2 separate regions of the Homo sapiens genome follow, and region 2 is linked to region 1. Evidence: fine-mapped expression QTL. A gene starts in region 1. The other region holds a variant in brackets. All regions are shown on one strand. Distances are from middle to middle.

Region 1 (3,019 bases):
CACAAATAAATGATCAATGTTTGAGGTGATGGATATCCTAACTACCCTGATCATTTCACATTGTATCCATGTGTCCAAATATCACATGTACCCCATATAAATATGCACAATTATGTAAAAATAAAAAAACACAGTAGAATGGACAAATGTGGAATATTCACATAATGGAATTGACACAACAATGAAAAGATAAACAACTGTACCCCACAACATAAATTTCATAAACATCATAGGTCAGAGAAACCACGCACTAAAGCACACAGAGCCCATGATGCCATTTATGTAGGGTTCACCCATGCATCCTGGTTTACATTCCCAGCTTTCACACCAAGAGTCCCACATCCCAGGAAACACCCCAATCTTGGATGAACTGGGATAGTTGGTCACCCTATAATTGTAAAACGTTTAAAAACAGGCAAAACGTGTCTATGCTGTTAGAAGTCAGGAGATTGCCTACCTGGGTTTGGAGGTGCTGACTGGATCGGGGGCCCAGGGCTCTGGGGGGCTGAGAATGTTTTGTTTCTGGATCTGGGTGGGGGTTACACAGTTACATTGTTTGTGGCTACCTATCAAGCTGGACACTTTGATCTGGGCACTTTTTCTGTTTTACTTCCATGAGGAAAAAAAAATTGAGAGGCAGGATAGTGTAGTGGTTAAACATGCATGCCCTCAAGCCAATTACCCAGGCTTAAAATCCCAGTTCTGACAATAGCTATTAACCAAACTTGCCTTAGCTTGCTGGCCTGGGCCAGGGCTGGGGACACCACGTGTCTAGATTTCTTTATTGAGGCACTAGCGGATGTGTGCAAGGGGTAGAGACCAAAAAGTGTGGCAGCAGCAGAGAAGGGACGTCAGCAGCTCAGGAGGCTAAGAGGATAGTATTGGGCCATCAGGACCCCCACGCCCCCAATTCTAGGGTCCTGGCATCTCCCCAGTCCCCCTTCCTCCCCAGAGGTCCAGAATTTTCAGCCTCAGTCCTGAGATTTGTGTCCACAAAACCAAATATTTCTAACTGATAAAAGCCACTCCTTCTTGCTGCGGAGAAACCACAAGGCAACCTGGGTAGTTTGAACAAAGTTCTCTAGCCTCCCTAAGTTTACTCCTCTGTACTGTGGAGAGGATAGAAGAAAATCGCAGTGAGTAATCACAGTGAATTCACTGAGCACTGCCAGTCTTTTGCTAAGAACATGATGTGCTCAAGCCTTACGATACTCTGAAGTGGGTATTATGCCTCTCCCCATTTTACAGAGTCAGAGACTGAGGCACAGAGAGGTTAAGTAGCCTGCCCAGTGTCACACAGCTCTGGAGCAAGCGCCTGCTCCAGAGCCTGAGACTCCTACACCACATCCCACCCAAGTGTGGGCCTCGCACATAATAGGCACCCAGCACCCAGTAGCTCGGCCTTGCTGCCGCCGTGGAATCTCCTGCCTCCCAGAGACCCAACCTCAGCCCTGGACTCACTATGGCCACTCCCTGCACCAGGGGGAACTGTTCGGGTTCCTGCAGGACGTCACAGATGGTGTTCACCATCTCGTCGATCAGTGTCTGACATTCTTCGTAGGGCTTCAGGTATTCCTGGATAAACCAACCCAGCTTCTGAGCAGGCACCGAGGACAGCTGGGACTCCCCATTTCCCATTGCTCTCAGCTGGCTGCCGGCAAGACAGTGAATGGTAGGATGGGAGGCAGAGGAATTCTTGCTGCTGCCCAGAGCCAGGAAACTGAAACTGAAGTCTAGAGGCCTCTCTCCACCCACTGCAGCGAGCTTACCAACTCTTGTATCCGGGACAGGGAAACAAAACTAACTTAAGCTCAGAGGCTCTGCCCTGCCCCTTGCAGTGAGTTTACCAACTCCTGCATCCGGGGCAGGGAAACCAAAACTAACTTAAGCTCAAATGCTCTTCCCCGCCCCTTGCAGCAAGGTTTACTGACTCCTGCACCCCAGCAGGGAAACCAAAACTGACTCAAGCTCAGAGGCTTTCCCTGTCCCCGGCAGCGTGGTGACCAGCCCTTCAGGGGCTCCCCAAAACTTGAGGTTAACTAAACAGCCTCTAGAACCCCATTGTGAGGGCTTCATACCTGCTAGATGTCTGTCCTTGAGCACATCGCCTGCCCTCTTCGCGCCTCAATTCCCCCATCTGTAAGCTGGGGGAAAATGGCAGCTCTCTCGTAGGATTAGCTTGATGATTAAATAATACCTGCAAAGTGCTTAGAAGCAGGGGCGCACAGGTCATCTTTTGAGGCTCTGTCCCTTTCCCCCTGTTCTCAGTGGCCAGGGAACTCACATTCAGGGAAAGCGGCAGAGAGGAAAAAGAGACCCAGAGAGGGAACTGACTTGCTCAGGGACACACAGCAAAGCAGGGACCTAGCTGGACTCAGGTTTTGGTCTGCTTCTGGGTAAACACAGGCCCCCGTGTGGTCAGCGGGTGGGAACCTCTGTGTGTCCAGTTTCTCAGCACACTTGTGGACAGCCGAGGGACCGTATGAGGCACTTGTCCAGCCTCGCAAGGGCAAGAAAACACACCCCAAGTGTGTGAGCCAGAAAGGAGACAGACATGCAACTCCTGTGCCCAGAGCTTTGAAAACAAAACTCGCAGAGGACTCCCAGCCAGCTGCCTTGGCCCAGCAATAATAATTCACAGAGAAGGCAAAAATCTCCAAGATGTAGTGGGGGACCAGGGCCCTTCCATACTGGGATGGTTAATTTTATGTGTCAAGTTGGCTGAGCCCAGGTACCCAGATATTTGGTCAAACATTATCCTAGATCTTTTTGTGAAGGTATTTTTTAAAGATAAGATTAACATTTACATTGGTAGACTTTTTTTTTGAGTAAAGTGGATTATCATCTGTAAGGTGGTGGGCCTGATTCAATCAGTTGAAGGCCTTAATAGACTAAAGACTGAGCTCCCCCAAGGAAGAGGGAATTCGGCTGCAGTGCCTTGGCCTCCACTTGCAGCAGCAACTCCTTCCTGGGTCTCCCACCTGCCAGTCTACCCTGCCGATTTTGGATTTGCCAGCCT
Region 2 (2,760 bases), 29 kb before region 1:
TGGGGGCTTAGGGGGCTGACCAGCTGTTTAAGCTCCTGTGAGCTGGGTTTCCTTTATTTGTGTCTGAGTTAATTTCAGGTTGCTACAGTAGGAGAAGTTCTTTGATTCAAGCCTGTTACAGGGCTATTTCCAGACAACGCCTCCTTTAGATGACTTTTACCGGCACTTTCCAAGGTGGTATTGGGTTTCCAGTCCCATCCTTGAAGCAGGGAGAGGATAACCATTCCTTTGCTTCTTTTGCCAGAAGATGCCAACACCAACGGTCCCCTCCACCCACGTCACCTGTGGGTTCGGCTGGGTCCAAGATCACAGGCCTGAATGAGAGGTTAGAAGGCATTAGGAGATTCCAAATCCCAGTGACTTCAGAATTTGGGGTCCATCCTATAATACTTTCAGCAATAAGACAATGTGTTCTTACAGCTTAGATGTCAGCAACTCAAATTTACTAGTAGGGTTCAAAGTAACTTTCTAGAGGCCGCGTGCAGTGGCTCATGCCTGTAATCCCAGCACTTTGGGAGGCTGAAGTGGGAGGATCACTTGAGGGCCAGGAGTTCGAGAACATCCTGGCCAACATGCAGAAACCCCATCTCTACTAAAAATACAAAAATTAGCTGGGCGTGGTGGTGCGCACCTGTAGTCCCAGCTACTTCGGAGGCTGAGGCAGGAGAACCAGCTTGAACCCGGGAGGCAGAGGTTGCAGTGAGCTGAGATTGTGCCACTGCACTCCAGCCTGGGTGACAGAGTGAGGCTCTGTCTCAAAAACAAAAACAAAAGCCAAAACCAAAGCAACTTCCTAGAATTAAATTGTATTTGCCAAAAGCGTTTTGAAAGCTGTTAATTGCTATACTCATGAAGGCATAATGAAGGCATAGTCTAAATATCTCCTCCTTGCTATGTCAGCTAAAATATGATACATAATTTAATCAAATACAATGTTGCCAAGAACCCAGGGTAGGCAACCCACCGGGGGTCTCCTTCTCTCTTACTTCTCCTCTATTCTTTTTCAACGCTCCTTTATTTTCTCTCTTTCCTTTCCTCTGGTTTCCATTGTTTTTGTCCCTTGCTGGTGGCCCTAAGCAGATGGATATGATTTCTTACTATTCTTGAAGGTCTGAAAGAGTAGATAAACCCTAACCCAATAAAAACCCTGCAGGATAAATCGGCCCGTGAATGATAGCGTTAATTCTTAGGGACACACTTCCAACTCTAACACCTCTTAGATGAAAGCAGCTCAGGGACGTGGTATCTTGAACCTTCCTTCTCTATTTTTTCTGAACAGCATTTTCTCCTGCCCCTGCTAGGTTTTATCCCTGGAGACTGTGACAGGTTCTGTTGGCTAGCACTTTCCCCCGTCATGCAAGGAATGAATCGTGACCCCAGCAGAGGAAAATCC[A/G]GGTTGCTGAGACAGTGTTCAAGGGAATCAGGTTAAGAAAAGTACGGGGCTAGGGTGAAGGCACCTGGTTTTCTGCAACTGGCTCAGTAGAAACTTCCTCACGGTCTCATCTTCAAAGTTGTAATTGACCTTCCAGAAGATGCAGAGCTGCTGATATTGTGTGACCAGCTCCAGGACTGTCCGGAAACCTTCTGCAGTGTCAAAATCCGGCACTCCACTCCCCTGCTCCCAGGCATAGATGGTGAGCAGCTCCAAGGCATACTTTGGGGGCAAAGACCCCTTTGGCTTCAGTTTCCTTTCACACTAGGTAAGAGTGGGAACATCAGACGAACTGGTTAGCCTAGGAGCTCAGTGAGAGCCGCACAGGGACCACAGCAAGGCAACTGAGTCACAGTGTCGTGCTGGTGTGCTCACACTCTGCAGCTTGGATGTCTAAATTGTACAGCCTACAGGAGTCCACCTGGCAGCAGCACATTTGAGTTTCTTTGTTGTGCTTTTGACCATATATGCCTTCCTAGGACAATAACATAGCTACAGTTTACTAGAAACCCACTGCATGCCAGCTATGGGCCCAGGCATTTACCCACATCATTCCTAATCTTCCCCACAATGCAGGCAGCATGACCTGCATTTTAGATGAAGACTTTGAAGCTGCGGGAAGTGGAGTGACTCACTCAAGGTCACGCCACAGCCCCAAGTCTTCTGACACGCCATGCCAGCTCTCTGATTTTCTGGGATGAAAACTACAGAGTTTGGTCTTGGTTTCACATTTCAGGGAGCTGGACACAGAAAGGAGGCATCTCAGGAAGAGCTGATATCGTGCTTGATGTTTACTGTCATGAGGATGTTCAGAAGCTACTTTGTGTGCAAGTGAGGGGAAACTGGGTAGAGACTAGGGATGCTGCTCAGCACCCTACAGTGCATGAATCTGGGGTTACCTGCCTGAGGATCACTTGTAGTAGGGGCTCAGGGGCTGACCAGTTGTTCAAGCTCCTGTGAGCTGGGTGTATAGAAAATGCAGCCCCGGTTCCACCTACAGCTTCAACCTGCCTTCTGAGAGAGAGCATGTGCGCCGGGAAGCAGAAAAGTCCTATTGGCAATGTGTGGGCATGTGAATCCCAGCTTCCACCCACCCTCTGTAGGCAAGGTCACTTGGATTCCTGCAGAATTCTTTGGCCAGTGTGAGGGCAAAGTAAACCACATGTAGCAGCTTTGATGGGCAGAAGCCATCAACGCCTGACCCAAATGAATAGGGTTAGTGATGGGAACGTCGTAAAGATATCCAGTGGGCAGATTCTCCAAAGTGGCTCAGCCCTCAGCATGGGAGATTGTGGGCAACAGGGCTTAATGTTCATGGCTTACTGGTA

Evidence for each region.
Region 2: its variant is fine-mapped to the expression of OAS2 in whole blood (TOPMed, PIP above 0.99).

What each region holds. Positions count from the first base shown.
Region 1 is chr12:112,977,228-112,980,246 of GRCh38, reverse strand. It overlaps OAS2 (2'-5'-oligoadenylate synthetase 2), which reads right to left and starts at 1,728. Exons shown (of 10, transcript NM_002535.3): 1 at 1,462-1,728. The coding sequence starts at 1,638. RefSeq lists enhancers at 564-713, 824-903, 1,074-1,153, 1,374-2,183.
Region 2 is chr12:113,006,641-113,009,400 of GRCh38, reverse strand. OAS2 (2'-5'-oligoadenylate synthetase 2) reads right to left here. Exons shown (of 10, transcript NM_002535.3): 9 at 1,458-1,696; 10 at 1-314. The coding sequence ends at 146. Among named protein-coding and RNA genes, the nearest start is that of OAS2, 30 kb to the right of the region's middle. RefSeq lists an enhancer at 1,466-2,665. The variant A/G (reference allele first, on the strand shown) is at 1,394.